2 separate regions of the Homo sapiens genome follow, and region 2 is linked to region 1. The links come from fine-mapping of genetic effects on plasma protein levels. Region 1 holds a variant in brackets. A gene starts in the other region. All regions are shown on their reverse strands.

Region 1 (8,267 bases):
ACTCCAGAAAGAATGCAGCCTGCCAACACCTTGGTTTTTAGCCCAGTGAAATGCATTTCAGACATCTGGCCTCCAGAACGAGAAGATCATAAATTTGTGTGTTTTTAAGTTATTAAGTCTGTGGTAAGTTGTTACAGCAGCCATAGAAACTAATGTAGAGGCTGTTTGCAATGATCCAGGTCACAGATGGTGAAGGCTTGGAATTGGCAATAGGGTCAAGAGAAGGGGATAAGGGCTGGGCACGGTGGCTCACGCCTGTAATCCCAACACTTTGGGAGGCAGAGGCTGGCAGATCATTTGAGTCCAGGAGTTTGAGACCAGCCTGGCCAACATGGCGAAAACCCGTATCTATGAAAAAAAATACAAAAATTAGCTGGGCATGGTGGTGTGCGCCTGTCATCCCAGCTACTCAGGAGGCTGAGGGAGGAGGATTGCTTGAGCCTGGGAGGCGGAGGTTGCAGTGAGCAGTGATTGCAACCTTGCACTCCAGCCTGGGTGACAGAGTGAGACCCTATCTCAAAAATAAATAAATAAAAAAAAATAAAGGGATCAATTCCATGTAAGTTGAGATGGACTCAGAGACCGACTGGACGCCTAAGGTCAGGAGGTCAGGAGATCCCCCAGCCCAGCAACCCTTTCTCCTCTCCTGATGCCCCAAGGCCTGCTCCTCCTTCCACAGCTCCCAGGGAGCCTCTGATCAAGTCTCTATCCTGTCCCAGGGCTGATTAGTACCTACTTTTGTGACAGGGGCCTAACAGGGAATTCTTTTTCATTTTTATTTTTGAGATGGAGTCTCATTCTGTCACCCAGGCTGGAGTGCAGTGGTGTGATCTCGGCTTACTGCAACCTCGGCTCACTACAACTTCCGCCTCTGCAACCTCTGCCACTGCAACTTCTGCCTCCTGGGTTCAAGTGATTCTCTTGCCTCAGCTGTAGCGGGGACTACAGGCATGCGCCATCATGCCCGGGTAATTTTTGTATTACTAGTAGAGATGGGGTTTTGCCATGTTGGCCAGGCTGGTCTCGAACTCCTGACCTCAGGTGATCCGCCTGCCTCAGCCTCCCACAGTGGCTTGAGCCACTGCACCCAGCCCTAAGAGGGAACTCTAAAGGAAGCTCTGTAGGTATCTGCCTCGTGGTTACACACACAGGGTGGCTGTGAAACCGCCTTTGCAAAAATTACAACTGAGGAAATTATGACAGTGAAAGAGATCAGACCTAACCGACTCCATCTTCCTTCTAACCTTTAAGCTGTCCTTGTTCATTCCTGGGCATAGGCCTGAACTAACTTTGGGAAGGAATTCAGTTCATGTTTTGACTCTGAAACAAAATTGATAATAGCCATTTCCCTAAAAAAAACCCCATTCTTGCCTGTGGACCAGTCTGCCTTTGCAAGACTAACAAATTAGCTACAAGATTAGAAATTTAGTTTAGCGGTCATGCAGCCTCTGGCTCCAAGAGTCTGAGCCTCCCCAGATTGCTCCTGCAGATAACATCACTATTGTAAAACCTAAGATCAGTGCTTGAGATAGTTTGCAGACCCTGCATTCGATGGATCAGCTGACACAACCCAGACTGGTAATCTGGCTCAACCATTTCTGCCATCCTCCCCAGGAACAGAAGACAGCAAGAAAACCACACTTCCACCCCCTAGGATTCCATCTCCAGCCTGACCAATCAGCACTCCCTGCTTCCCAAGCCCTTACCCGCCAAATTATCTTTAAAAACCCCGATCCCCGAATGCTCAGGGAGACTGTTTGGAGTAATAATAAAACCCAGTCTCCCACACACCAGCTCTGTGTGAATTACTCCTTCTCCACTGCAATTCCCCTGTCTTGATAAATTGGCTCCGTCCAGGCAGCGAGCAAGGTGAACCCACCGGGCAGTTACAGCTATGGGCATATAACTGCAGGTATTTTCAGAGTTAACTAGACTCTTGTGATTAGCTGGGAATCCATTCACTTGATGGGGTAACAAATCTGAGTTCCAAACCCCCGGTTTATCAATTCCCAAGCTGGCAATCAATTCCCATGCTAGCTTAGCTAAATGTATTTTCAGATTTTTTTTTTTTTGGGGACAGAGTTTTGCTCTTGTTGCCCAGGCTGGAGTGCAATGGTGCGATCTTGGCTCACTGCAACTTCTGCCTCCCAGGTTCAAGCGATTCTCCTGCCTCAGCCTCCCGAGTAGCTGGGATTTCAGGCACCCACCGCCATGCCTGGCTAATTTTGTATTTTTAGTAGAGACAGGGTTTCTCCATGTTGGTCAGGCTGGTCTCGAACTCCCGACCTCAGGTGATCCGCCTGCTTCGGCCTCCCAAAGTGCTGAGATTATAGGCGTGAGCCACCGTGCCCAGTCTATTTTCAGATTTTTTTGCATGTACTATAGTTTTATAATTTTAGTTTGCTCATGGAAATATGTTGGGTGGCTAACTACTGATGATTCATCCTCACATTATCCCCATGTGCCTGTTGGTGTATTCTGAAAGTGCTTGGGAGGAACATCCCCTAATTACATGTTTCAGAATGCATTGTTTGTGTGGCCTCATCATCATCAATAAAACTTCTCTTGATCGTCTATCTGAAGCCATTTTGAGTGGCAGACACCCCTATGGTGATTACTGCCCACAAATCCCTTGGCTTTCGAAAACAGCAGGGCTTGCATCAGCTGCAAACTAGACATAATTTTATCCATATCATCGTGATAAGGCTAATGAAGGCTGGTTTTGCTTCTTCTTCCTGCCTCATGAGTCATTTACAGATATTTCTGTCAGGCTAACCTCAACTGTCTCTCATACACAACGGCAGCTTTCCTACTGATCAATTAGTCCAGGCACATTGACACAAGCCCCTGGATTTTGCAACGTGATGGCGGTGTTTGACAACTACCATTCTGCTTTAGCTTTCCTCCAGAGTAAGTTTCCTTTGGTTGCAGATTTCAGGGTTAACAGATACTTTCAAAAAGTTTTTCACTCAGATTCAGTTTTCTTGACAATGTGATCAAGAAATGTGGTCTTAGCGGGGCGTGGTGGCTCAAGCCTGTAATCCCAGCACTTTGGGAAGCCGAAGCGGGTGGATCACCTGAGGTCAGGAGTTTGAGACTAGCCTGACCAACATGGTGAAACCCCGTCTCTACTAAGAATACAAACAAATGACCAGGCACGGTGGCTCATGCCTGTAATCCCAACACTTTGGGAGGCTGAGGTGGGCGGATCACCTGAGGTCGGGAGTTCAAGACCAGCCTGACCAACATGGTGAAACCTGTCTCTACTAAAAATACAAAATTAGCCAGCCATGGTGGCATGCGCCTGTAATCCCAGCTACTTGGGAGGCTGAGGCAGGAGAATCACTTGAACCTGGGAGGTGGAGGTTGCAGTGAGCCGAGATTGCGCCACTGTACTCCATCCTGGGCCACAGAGTGAGAAACCGTCTCAAAAAAAAAAAAAAAAAAAAATAGGCCATAGCCTGAGCTTAGCCTGCTGGCCATAGTCTACAGACCCATGCTATAATACACGAGTAACTGGTGTGAGTAACTACACACAGACAGAAAAGCACCCAGTGAACAGTGCCTTCATTTCTCGAATTTCCTGCTTTCTGTCAACATGCATCACACAGTTACATGCTCTTCCTGTGGTTGCAATCAGTTTATCTTTGCATTCTGCTGTTTTAAAATTTAACGCCCATTTCTGTGGATTGGCATAGCCCACATTCTTGTGAATCACCCACAGTGATTCCTGCAGTGTTGTCCCCAGCCTCAAGCCTCTCTGCACCGTAATTGTGCTTCTTTTCCTCAGATACCTGCCTTGCATTGGCCCTGGGTAAATGTTTCCCTTGGCTGTGAATAGGCAATTAAAATTCTGAACCTTTTATGGCTCTGGAAGCTTATCCGATGAAACAATACTCATCCAGGCGGATGGCCCACCAGCGCAAAGGTATGTGCTTTAGGATGACCTGGTGAAGGAGAATGTGATGCCTCAGCAGGGAGGGAGTGGGGGAGGAGAGGGAGCTGGGCAGCCCCCATCAAGGCCCCACCGGAGGCAAGGAATCTCTTTTGGAGTTGCCAGTCCCCCAACCTGCTCCGGAATTTTTACAATCAGATCCCCTCCTTCGTGGCTGAAAATGAAGGGCACGGTGGCTTTCTAGTTTGTGTGTGTGAGTGTGTGTTTGGGGGTAGGTGGACTTTGCTCATCACCATCATTTGGATTTTTGGCTCTGGGGATTCTGGAATTAGGGATCCCACCACCACCTGCAGGGCAGGGGTTGGGGCACGGGCTCTGGAATCTGGGTTGTGTGAGGAGTAATTGAGAGATTGCAAGGCCCGGCGCGGTGGTTCACGCCTGTAATCCCAGCACTTTGGGAGGCCGAGGCTGGTGGATCACGAGGTCAGGAAATCAAGACCATCCTGGCTAACACCGTGAAACCCCATCTCTACTAAAAATACGAAAAATTAGCCTGGCGTGGTGGCGGGCGCCTGTAGTCCCAGCTACTCGGGAGGCTGACGCAGGAGGATGGTGCAAACCCGGGAGGCAGAGCTTGCAGTGAGCCAAGATCACACCACTGCACTCCAGCCTGGGCGAGAGAGCAAGACTCCGTCTCAAAAACAAACAAACAAACAAACAAACAAAAAACCACTACTGGCTGAGGGCGGGCGCGGTGGTTCACGCCTGTAATCCCAGCCCTTGAGGGGCCAAGGCGGGTGGATCACCTGAGGTCAGGAGTTCGAGACCAGCCTGGCCAACATGGAGAAACCCTGTCTCTACTTAAAACACAAAAATTAGCCAGGCATGATGGCAGGAGCCTGTAATCCCATCTACTCGGGAGGCTGAGGCAGGAGAATTGCTCGAATCAGGGAGTTGGAGGTTGCAGTGAGCTGAGATCATGCCACTGCACTCCAGCCTGGAGACAGAGCAAGACTCCATCTCAAAAAAAAAAAAAAAAAAAAAGATTGCGAAAGCGCCTGCCAGCACCTAAGCAATCAATAAGGGTTATTGGGTTGTGGTTTCTGCCTGGGGACTTTAGAAACCGGGCAGGTGGAGGTCAAAGGCCAGCCCCGCCAGCTCCGCATGGTCTTCTCCACCTTTGGGGCCATCTCAAGTTCTAGATTCCATGAACCTTGCCCTTGAAATCGTCTGGGAATGGAATTATTGCTAATCCCAAAAAGGCTGACACATCACTCCCTGGCAGGGTTCAACCGGGTGGCAACATGGTTTGTGTGGCTGCCCCTGTTTTCCCTCAGAATTCGGATTTTAAAACTTTCAAAATATGAGATTTTTATTTTATATATATATATTTTTTATTATTATTTTTTTTTCGAGTGCGATGGCACAATCTCAGCTCACTGCAACCTCCCAGGCTGGAGTGCAGTGGCGCGATCTCGATCTCGGCTCACTGCAACCTCCGCCTCCTGGGTTCAAGCGATTCTCCTGCCTCAGCTTCCCAAATAGCTGGGACTACAGGTGCGCGCCACCACACCCAGCTAATTTTTTATTTTTAGTAGAGATGGGGTTTCACCATGTTGGACAGGCTGGTCTCGAACTCCCGACCTCAGGTGATCCACCCGCCTCGGCCTCCCAAAGTGCTGGGATTACAGGAGTCAGCCACCGCGCACGGCCGAGATTTAAAAAATTATACGGATGACACCAGATCCTCAGAGCCGGAGCTCTGGGTGCCTCAGCCCCGACAGCGCGTCCGCTCCAGGACCCTGTGGACGATGCTGCCCCCTAGTGGCCGCGGGGCACAAGGCCCACCGGACCACGTTGCTCCATGGAGGGGCTCGAACTGGAGAGCTCCGTCTCTAACCCGCCGCCTCCTTCCGTGCCCTCTGCCGACGCCCTTCCGATTCCTGCAGCCCCTCTGCAGTCCTCCACCTTTTTCTTTCTTTCCTTTTGAGACAGGGTCTCACCTTTGTCACCCAGGCTGGAGTGCAGTGGCATGATCATAGCTCACTGCAGCCTGGAACTCCTGGACTCAAGAGATCCTCCTGCCTCAGCCTCCAGAGTAGCCAGCTCTACAGGCATGCGTTACCAAACTCGGCTAATTTATTTTTATTTTTGTAGAGATGGAGTCTCACTATGTTGCCAGGCTGGTCTTGAACTCCTGGGCCCAAGCCATCTTCCTACCTCAGCCTCCCGAAGTGCTGGAATTACAGGCATGAGCCACCAAGCCCAGCCAATCCTCCGCTTCTATTTAGGTGCTGTGGATAATGTGGCCCAGCAGGGGGCTGGCTGCCATGAAACTGGCCGGGGATTTGGGGGTCTTTATATCCACATGGATGCATCTTTAGGATGAGTTCTATTCTTTGCACATTTTGCTCTAGAGCAATTTTAAAAACCAATCAGCCACAATTTTTTTTTTTTTTGAGATGGAGTTTCACTCTTGTTGTCCAGGCTGGAGTGCAGTGTCACGATCTCAGCTCACTGCAACCTCTGCCTCCCAGGTTAAGTGATTCTCCTGCCTCAGCCACCCGAGTAGCTGGGATTACAGGCACGCACCACCATACCTGGCTAATTTTTTGTATATTTAGTAGAGATGGGGTTTCACCATGTTGGCCAGGCTGGTCTCGAACTCCTGACCTCAGGTGATCCTCCCGCCTTGGCCTCCCAAAGTGCTGGGATTACCGGCGTGAGCCACCGTGCCTGGCCATCAGCCACACTTTTTGAGCAGCCAGGGCTGTGTGGCTGGTACAAAGGTCTTAAGGTTGAAAGGGGCTTGGCTCTTTTTAAAAACTGAGGGCAGGGAAGGTGGGGGTGTGTGTGGGGACTGAGCAGAATGAAGGAGCCGTGGGAAGGAGGAGCACAGGAAAGACTGGTGAGGGGCCACTATCTATCGTCAGGATTTAGGATTTTACAATAAGAGCCCTAGAAAGCTTTGAAGGATGGGGAGGGACTTTGCACTTGAGAAGAATTCCTTTGGGTTGTTGGAGAAGGGATTGTGGGGGCCCTGGAGTCTGGCTGGGAGCCAGAGAGGAGGCCCCGGGGGCTGTACAGGCAGGGATGGGGGTGTTGCCTGTGGACTTGGAGTGAAGGATTCCAGAGGCCCTTTAGAGGTAGCCTGGGTTGGCTAGAGAAGGAAGGATCGCGGATGCTCCTCAGGCTGGTGCAGCCCAGCGGGGAGGATGGAGCCAGAACTCACTGAGATAGGAACAGACTGGGGCAGGATCACTGGTTCTGTTGGACAAGTGGAGTCTGTGATGTTGAGTAGAGTCTGTGATGTTGAGTAGATGGTCTGATATAAGGGGAGGGGGCTTGAGCTCTGTTGGAGGCAGAAACCTAGAGGAAAAGAGCTTTGGAAGAGCACAGAGATTTCTGCTGGGATCCAAGGGCAGAGCTCGGCTGCTTTCCTTTTGTCCTGGCTCACCTTACCCTGACAGGGGCAGACCCCCCACCATAACAAGGAGACCAAAACCACGCAGGGGGCACAAAAGTGAGATGCTTGTGGTTTATTGAAGAGAGCAAGGCTGGTGGGCGTGGACTCAAAGCATGGCAGCGGCAGAGGCTGGAGCAGTTGGGGATCTTCAGCTTCTAAATGCTAATTACACAGTGAGCTTTGGGCTATTTTTTCCTAAAACAAATAGACAAAGAAACAGAAAAACCCAATACAACAGTGAATGAATTGCATAGTTAGGCAGAGATGACGAGCCACA[G/C]AAACTTCAACATTAACCGAGAGGTGCAGTCAACTCTAGGAGGAACTAAGGTAGTAAGGGCTTGGATTGTTTCTCAAAAGCCTCTTACAAAATAGTAAGGGGAGGCTGGGCGTGGTGGCTCACGCCTGTAATGCCAGCACTTTGGGAGGCTGAGGCGGGTGGATCACCTGAGGTCAGGAGTTCGAGACCAGCCTGGCAAACACGGTGAAACCCCATCTCTACAAAAATACAGAAATTAGCTCGGCATGATGGTGGGTGCCTGTAATCCCAGCTACTCAAGAGGCTGAGGCCGGAGAATCGCTTGAACCTGGGAGGTGGAGGTTGCAGTAAGCCAAGATCGTGCTATTGCACCCTAGTCTGGGCGACAGAGCGAGACTCTGTCTCAAAAAAAAAAAAAAAAAAAAAGGAAGAGGAGATGTCTAGAAAGATCACTGTGCTGCCTGCCTGGGGACAGTGGCACTGTGACTCTCCTCTCTGGATTAGAAACAGGTCTGAAAACTGGGGCAATCCTGCAGCCCCACTTGGGGAAGCCACTTCTAACCAGTGTGACGTGAAAGGTGCTGGTTACCATGAGCTTAATGATGCTTTCTCTGGGCTTTTGGGGGAGGGTGTCCACCAGCTTCTTCAGC
Region 2 (8,305 bases), not on the chromosome of region 1:
AGTGGGGTGAAGCCTCACGGGAGGGCCCTGGGGATAGCACCAGCGCTTGTGTGCCTGGGCCCAAATTGGTATCGGAGGTTTGGCACTGCTGGCTGCCAGCCTGTCACTCCAAGGAGGACAACTCTAAAAAATGGGAGCTGAGAGGCCGGGCGCGGTGGCTCACGCCTGTAATCCCAGCACTTTGGGAGGCCGAGGCAGGCAGATCACGAGGTCAGGAGATCGAGACCATCCTGGCTAACACGATGAAACCCTGGCTGTACTGAAAATACAAAAATTAGGCGGGCATGGTGTCGGGCGCCTGTAATCCCAGCTACTCAGAAGGCTGAGGCAGGAGAATCGCTTGAACTTGGGGTCAGAGGTTGCAGTGAGCCGAGATTGCACCACTGCACTCCACCTTGGGCAACAGAGCAAGACTCCATCTCAAAAAAAAAAAAAGGAGCTGAGAGATGGCAGGGAAGAATGAGGTATGAGGTCCTGGTGACATCCTTTGAGCCTGGATCAACCTTTCCCTGAAGGCGGAGCCACTCCTGGAATTTCAGTCTTTGCTTAAAGCCACGTGGGTCAGCTTTTCTGTCACTTTCACCAATGCCCTGAACCCACAAGGCAGGAACCACATCGACAGCACCTGCTCCCCTCCGCACAGCAGGGCCCTGTGGGTGGGAGTGCCGACAGGGAAGGGGCAAAAGGAAGTGGCTGAGAGCCAGATCAATATTGACCCAGGGACGGTGCCACAGAGGGCGCTCGGATATGCTCACGACACTGCCCAGTGCCCGAGGGCCCACGGGGCTGAGCTATGAGGAAAGAGGACGCGGGCTGAGGAGGGGGTGCTGAGCGCCCCAGGGCCCACGGGGCCGAGCCATGAGGAGGGAGGACGGGGGCTGAGGAGGGGGTGCTGAGCGCCCCAGGGCCCACGGGGCCGAGCCAAACCACTTCCTACTGGCGCAGGAGAAAGCCCAGAGTGCCTGCTGGGACTGGCCGAGGTGCCTGTCCTTGTGGGGCCCACTCAGGGCGGTGTGGAGGGTCGCTGCTGCTGGCCGCTGTGGTGGCCCTGGCCAGGAGCCCCCACAAGTCCCTTGAAAAAGGGTCCCAGGACCATCGGGAAACTCAGGGTGCCGGCTGACACCACCAGGGCTGCCCACCGGTCCCCACCTTCGAGTAGGAAAGTTTGCTCAGAAGGAGTGAGGAAGGGGGCCTCGGGGCCGGGGTCCAGCGCCTGCGGCCTTTGGCTCTAGACATAAAAAGAAGAGCAGCTTCTATTGGAACAGCACCACAGACCCCTCCCAAAGCCCCAGATCATTCTAGCATGGAGGGCTAACCTAACCAGGGCCCAGCCACCAGGACACCACCTGACAGCCAGCTGCTATCCCAGGAGAGCAGAGGTGGGCAGAGAGGGGCCCCAGAAAACTCCGGCAATGAACAGTCACCAAGATGCCTGCTCTGGCGGGGAGCTGCACTCACCTGCCCAGGTGACCACATCAGAGAGGCATGGGTATCCGGAGTTCAACCCAGTTTGCTTAATAATTTATGTACTCAAGGCATTAGGAAGAGAGGGCACCAGAGAAAGAGGGATATCAAAGAGAGGGGGCATCACAGAGAGCAGGGGCCTCAGAGAGAGAGGACATCAGAGAGAGAATGGGGACATGGTGGGGGCATCAGAGTGGGCATCTGCCACCTGAACAGCCCTCCACAGGTGTCTGCGGAAGCACCGCCAAAGCGTGGGCCGGGCGGAGGCACCGTGAGCCTCTAGGCTCCCCAGCAGGAGCACCCAGGGGCTGAGTACCCTGCTCCGAGGCCCTGAGGTCTTTCAATAGGCCCCAAATTCAATATCTGGCCCCTTCCCCAGAGCCGCAAAGTGCTTGTTTACCTTCCAGCTCTTCCTGCATTCCGTGGGAGTGGGCAAGGTGTGCGTGTTTATTTTGGCCCAAAAGATGCCCTGCAAACACTGCCCAGAACAAGCTGACCGTGTCGTCTGCAGACAGCGCCAAGCACTTTCTCAGTGTCTCGGCAGACCTGAGCCAGCAAGGGCCGCAAGCAGGAGTGGCAGGGAAGGCCCAGGCTGACGAGAGGGCGCTGCCCACCCGCCCCTGTCCCATGCCGGGCGGACTCTGACACCCACCCTGGAAGCCTCACCTGGCCTGGCCTTCAAGGGGCAGGGCAGCACTTGGAGGGCATGGCAGGCCCCAGGTCCGTCCACACCCCAGCTCCTGGAACCTTGGAATGTTAGGCTCAGCAGGCACGGTCTCGGCAGCCCGACTGGGGGCGTCATTGTGAGATGAGGGGACTGTCCTGGGTTATCTAGGTGAGCCCTAAATGCAACAACACACACACTCATAAGATGGCGGCAGAATTTTCACACTCACACACACCCACACTCACACACACATTCACACACACTTGCACACAATTCAAACACATGCATATCCACACACTCCCTCCCACACACTCCCTCCCACACTCTCCCTCCCACACAGACTGACTCACGCTTATCCACACACACACTTGTACACACATTCACACTCAAACACACCCACAAGCTCACACCCACTCACTCTCCTTCACATGCACATTCTCATTCACTGTCCATCTTACACACTTGCATGCATATTCACTCTCACCCCTCCACACACACACCCCCACACATCCCCACACCCACACACACCCACACATGAACCCTCACACACACCCACATACACACCCACACATACACACCCTCACACACACCCCACACACACTCACACACCCACACATACCCTCACACACCCTCACACACACCCATACCCTCTCACTCCCACACACCCACACACGAACCCTCACACACCCACACACACCCCCACACACACCCACACACCCACACACACCCACACACCGACAAACCCTCACACACACACCCCACGCACCCTCACACACACACCCACACACACAGAAGAGGAGGAGGCCATGTGACCAGGAGGCAGAGACTGGAGTGATGCAGTCACCAGCCAAGGGGCCCTGGCAGCCCCCATAAGCAGGGAGAGGCCAGGAGTGGATAAGCTCCTGGGAAGGCCCAGCCTCTGGAGGAGGAGCGGCCCCCGACGCCTCGCCTTCACCCCCGTGACACTGCACTTCTGGGCTCCAGAACTGCGAGCGGAGTAAATGTGTTGTTTTCAGCCACCAGGTATGTGGTGACTTGTCACAGCAGCCTCAGGAAATGAATACAGAGGCAGCCGCTGACCCAGCTGTGCAGGTCTCGGCACAGGCCAGACCCTCGGCCTGCCTGATCCCCAACTACCGCAGAGGCTTCGCCAGCCGTGGCCCCCAGAGCCAGTGTGGGGTGAGGGGCTGGGCCAGCCTGAGGTGAGTCCTGGCTTGCCTTGACCATGGCAGCTCGGGAGAGGAGAGCACATCCTTTGGCCCTGTCAGTGGTGAAACGGAGACACCGTGACACACTTCTCCGGGGAGCCAGGGGATGTATTTTTGGAATCCGAAATCTTGGGGCACATGGGAATGAGGGCCTGTCACCACCCTGCAGGCTTGTGGGAAATGGGAACAGATCCACCCAAGGCACTATGAGCCGGAAGGTGGAGGGAGGTTATTTTGAAGACAAAGGATCCCTGGAGGCAGGTGCAAGGGGCCGCTGGAGTGGCCAGGACCCCAAGCGCTGCTGGGGACCCACAGATGACGGCCTCCCCCTCCTCCTGGCCTCGGCAGCATCGGTCTTTCCCGCGGTCAGTGTTCTCTGGTCCCCAGGCAGCATGGGGAAAGGTGGCCCCAAAGTCAGCTCCCAAGATGCGCCCACTGGGATTGCTTGGGCCAAGGCTGCCAGATCCTGCTCAGGAGAAGAACAAGCATCATGAGGTTGTGGACACACTGGGATCCTTGTGCATTGTTGCTGGGAAGGCAGCGTGGTGCCGCTGCTATGGGAGAGATGGCAGATCCTCACAAATGACACAGGCAAGTTCCACAGGCTCCAGCCATTCTACCTCTGAGCAGCCACCCAAAACAGCCAACAGCAGGGTCCCAAAGAGGCATTTGCACAGCCGTGTTCACGGCCGCATTACTCACAGCAGTGAAAACATGCAAGCGCCCACATGTCCACCCACGGGTGAAGTGAATGGGTGAAGAAAACGTGGCACAGCCATGCAATGGAGCAGTATCCTACCCTAAGAAGGAAGGAAACTCTGAAGGTCATGAATGAACCTGGAGGATATCATGCTAAGTGAAATACGCCAGACACAAAAGACAAACACTGCCCGATTCCACTCATATGAGGTGCCGGGAGTGGCCAGATTCAGAGACAGAAAGTGGAATGGTGGTGCCAAGGGCTTGGGGAGGGGAGTGGGGAGTTGTTTAATAGGCTCAGAGTTTCAGTTTTATAAGAGGAAAAGAGTTCTGGAAATGGATTGTGGTGATGTTTGCACAACATTAGAATATACTTAATGCTAATGGAGTGTGCCCTTAAGATGGTGAAGCTGGGCTGTGCGGGGTGGCTCACACGTGTCATCACAGCACCTTGGGAGTCTGAGGCGGGAGGATTGCTTCAGGCCAGGATTTTGAGACCAGCTTGGTCAATGTAGCGAGACCCCATCTCTAGAAAAAATAAAAATAAATCAAGCCAGGCGTGGTGGCTCACACCTGTAATCCCAGCACTTTGGGAGGCTGAGGCAAGAGTATCACTTGAGGCTAAGAGTTCAAGACCAGTCTGGGCAACACAGTGAGACTTTGTCTCTACAAAAAATAAACAAAATTAGCTGGACATAGTGGTGCACACCTATAGCCCCACCTGCTTGGGAGGCTGAGGTGGGAGAATTGCTTGAGCCTGGGAGGTGGAGGCTGCAGTGAACCAAGATCACCTCACTACACTCCAGCCTGGGCGACAGAGTGAGACTGTCTCAAAAAACAAACAAACAAAAAACAAAATCAAAATCCGCTGAGTGTGGTGGCTCACACCTCTAGTCCCAGCTACTTGGGAGTCTGAGGTGGGAGGATTGCTTGAGCTCAGGAGTTCGAGACCAGCCTGGGCAACACGGCAAGACAGTGTCTTTACCACCACCAAAAAAGTAATTAACTTCAAACTGTTTTTAAAAAAGAAAACGTATTTCCCATTAAAATTACTTCCATGATGACCAACAAAACACAACCAAACTCCAGATTTATAATGCAAAAATCCCCCAAACAAAATAGTCAAGGAAAAGTGTAAGTGAACAGAAACAGTGTGAATGCGTGTGCCTGGCCACAACAGTTGGCAAAGGCACAAGTGTCTGCAGGTGCGGAGGAGGCCGCAGTAGCTCGGGGTGGCTGAGGGCTAAGACGTGCTGTCAGCCATAGGGAAGGAATTCCAGGACACTGCCTGAAGAGTCAGGTCCTCCCACCCGGGAGCCTGTTTCCCACGCGTGCCAGCTACACTTTACAAAAGAAAAGAGAGACTTTGCACCAACCTAGCTGAGAGCAGCCACGCAGCAAAACGTGAGTCACTCAGTGCTCAATGCCTGGGGTCAAAAAATAGAGGAAAGAAGAAGGACTAAAAGCAAATTAGTTTATGTATCATTTGCAAAAGTTTTCAAAATGTGCTTTGCTCTCCATCTGTCATACTTCTGCAGGTGACAGACGAGTGAGGACATTTAGAGAAACTCAGGAACAAACCAGGCCCATCCACTGGCGTCGAGGCTAGTTTCGAAGACAGAAAAACGCCCCACTTCTGTTTGCACTGTGGCTGCCTGTGGCCCGGCCGGGGAGGCGGCCGGGAGTGAGGCCTGATCGTCCCTGGCGCCTCCACCTCCCCAGGCGCAGAAGGCGCCCACGAGGACCCCCAGTGCCCGACGTTGCCACGGTCTGGGATCAGAGGCAGGGACCAGGGAGCCAGGAACTGCGCCGCCCCCGCCCCTGCCCTGGCGCGAGGGAAGCTCCCCTCACCCGGGCCCAGCCCTGCAGGGGGGCGCGTGGGGTCAGACCGCAAAGCGAAGGTGCGGGCCGGGGTGGGCCTCGCGGAGACAAAGGCCGGGCCTGCCTGCTCTCAGAGGGCCCCAGCGCCTGCCAAGAGGAAGTCCTCGAGGCCCGGGCAGGGAAGGGGGCACGGGCTTCCCAGGGCCCGCCGGCCGCAGCAGGAAGTTGGCCAGGGCACGGCCGTGAGCGGAGCGGGCAGGGCTTTCTCAGGAGCGCGGGCGAGGCCGGCGCTGGAGGGGCGAGGACCGGGTATAAGAAGCCTCGTGGCCTTGCCCGGGCAGCCGCAGGTTCCCCGCGCGCCCCGAGCCCCCGCGCCATGAAGCTCGCCGCCCTCCTGGGGCTCTGCGTGGCCCTGTCCTGCAGCTCCGGTGAGCGCCCCGGGCTCCTGGCGCGCACGGTGGGGCCTGAGGCCTCGGCGCCCGCTGCGCCCCCGCCGCTGCCTGCGCCGATCGTGGATCCCAGGTCCTTCCAGCCTCGCCCGGCGCCCAGAGGGCTCCGCCACCCCGGGGCCCCGCGCCTGCAGCCCGCGGCCTCCCCCTCTCAGGGCTGTCTCCAGCCTCGTGCCGGGATGGAGGCCGCCCCTGGCCTGGGGACACCCGTCTGCCCCCCGTCTGGAGACCGGCTCCTCATCCTGCAAGGCGCAGCGCGAGTGTCCCCTCCCTTGGGGGCCTGTCCCGGACCCTGCACAGAGTTCACCGGTCCTTCCGCCACCCTCAGGCCACTCCGGTGACCCTGCAGCGTCTCCTGGCGGGGCCGCCTCCCCAGACCCGCCTGTGTCCCGGGGGCTCGCACCTGGCAGGCCTCGGCGCAGGAGGGAGGGGCGGTCGGGGAGCCGGGCAGGGCGCGACGGTTCCTGGGCGCCTCCCGCGGGGGCGCGTCCTGGACCTGCCTTCTGGGGACCCCGGCGCGCAGGCGGTGACCCCTCCCTGTTCGCTTGCAGCTGCTGCTTTCTTAGTGGGCTCGGCCAAGCCTGTGGCCCAGCCTGTCGCTGCGCTGGAGTCGGCGGCGGAGGCCGGGGCCGGGACCCTGGCCAACCCCCTCGGCACCCTCAACCCGCTGAAGCTCCTGCTGAGCAGCCTGGGCATCCCCGTGAACCACCTCATAGAGGGCTCCCAGAAGTGTGTGGCTGAGCTGGGTCCCCAGGCCGTGGGGGCCGTGAAGGCCCTGAAGGCCCTGCTGGTAAAGTGGGCACCCCGGGTGCCCTTCCTGCGCGGGCATCCCTTCCCGGCCAGCCTCAAAACTGCACCAGAGGTGTCCCGGCCCTACGTCAGGGCTGTTTCCCGTCCTGCCCCTCCAAGCCCTGTCCCTGGGAGAAGCCCGGGTCTCCGGGTGGGAACTGGGTGGGGCGCATCCGAGCTGCAGGGGCGGGGAAGGCGGAGATGGCCCCGCGCGGGTGCGCGTCCCCCGGAGACGCCAGCGGAACCGCCCCGCTCCCGCTCCCCACAGAGCCGGCCGCTGCCGCGCCCCCGCCTGAGTTCTTGGTGGCAGGGCTGGGGGCACTCAAGCTCGGCTTCTGCTTTCCAGGGGGCCCTGACAGTGTTTGGCTGAGCCGAGACTGGAGCATCTACACCTGAGGACAAGACGCTGCCCACCCGCGAGGGCTGAAAACCCCGCCGCGGGGAGGACCGTCCATCCCCTTCCCCCGGCCCCTCTCAATAAACGTGGTTAAGAGCAGCTCGAGCCTGGTATTTTCTCATCCAAATGCTGATCCCTGTGGGGGACCGAGAGTGCCAAGTCCCAGATTTTGTGAGGGGTGCTGCGTGAGAGAGGGAGAGAGAGGCCGCGAGAGTCTGCAGGTGGCATAGAGCCAGCAGTGCAAGGTGACAGAGATGGGGCCAGTATCAGAGGTAAACCGGATTTGGAAACAAAACTGGCAGGTCTTTCTTCCTGTTGTGCTCTGTAACTGTTTATGAAGCATAAAAATTATCTACTCCTTGAAGACTGGCGAGAATGCAAACGCACCAAAGCCATTTGTTGCTAAAATTTGAAAGTTTTTATTTTTTCCCTCTATACTTGTAGATTTCTTCCTCGGAATGGGGGAGGAATGAGGGCTTCAGGAAATCCGCTGTTGGGCTTGTTTTCCCTGCAGTTTCTGCTGGTTTTGTCCAAATAACCTAGTGACTTTGATTCCTTCTACTCTAGCGGAGAGACCACCTTTTGTCAACTGATCTAGTGTTGGTGGGAAGGTGCCCAGGGAACCCAGACATCGGTGTCCCTTTCAGGGGAAGCCTCCCAGTTGACTTCCTTGCTGGGATGAATAACTCTGCCTCAGGTGGCTTGAGCAGGTCTTCCCCCCATCATGAATATCCACACGAGATTTTAAAAATTTTTTGATTGGGCACGGTGGCGCACACCTGTAACCCTAGCACTTTGAGAAGCCAAGGCA

Direction of the effects. Positions count from the first base shown, and alleles are read on the strand shown. Strength reflects both the effect of a copy and how common the allele is.
In carriers of allele C in region 1, the plasma level of the protein whose gene starts at base 6,199 in region 2 tends to be lower than with G alone (weak association).

The links. A credible set is the group of variants that fine-mapping cannot tell apart. PIP is the posterior inclusion probability: the model's chance that the variant is causal. The UK Biobank Pharma Proteomics Project read protein levels with antibody pairs (Olink). The fine-mapping took linkage between variants from a reference panel, not from the people measured, so its PIPs are less certain.
Region 2: it holds the start of SCGB3A1, and the variant in region 1 is the best candidate, but not a certain one, in a credible set for the plasma level of the SCGB3A1 protein (UK Biobank, PIP 0.73).

Annotation. Positions count from the first base shown.
Region 1 is chr11:62,422,348-62,430,614 of GRCh38, reverse strand. SCGB1A1 (secretoglobin family 1A member 1) reads right to left here. Exons shown (of 3, transcript NM_003357.5): 2 at 8,207-8,267; 3 at 7,420-7,556. The coding sequence ends at 7,524. It overlaps LOC102723765 (a long non-coding RNA gene), which reads left to right and starts at 3,692. Exons shown (of 4, transcript XR_007062699.1): 1 at 3,692-3,928. RefSeq lists enhancers at 3,907-4,454, 5,804-5,873, 5,914-6,003. The variant G/C (reference allele first, on the strand shown) is at 7,639.
Region 2 is chr5:180,589,393-180,597,697 of GRCh38, reverse strand. SCGB3A1 (secretoglobin family 3A member 1) reads left to right here and starts at 6,199. Exons shown (of 3, transcript NM_052863.3): 1 at 6,199-6,287; 2 at 6,860-7,098; 3 at 7,444-7,593. The coding sequence starts at 6,236. The coding sequence ends at 7,467. It overlaps LOC124901154 (a long non-coding RNA gene), which reads right to left and starts at 4,528. Exons shown (of 2, transcript XR_007059088.1): 1 at 4,489-4,528; 2 at 3,430-3,805. RefSeq lists a silencer at 814-985 and enhancers at 5,998-6,667, 6,668-7,337, 7,338-8,007.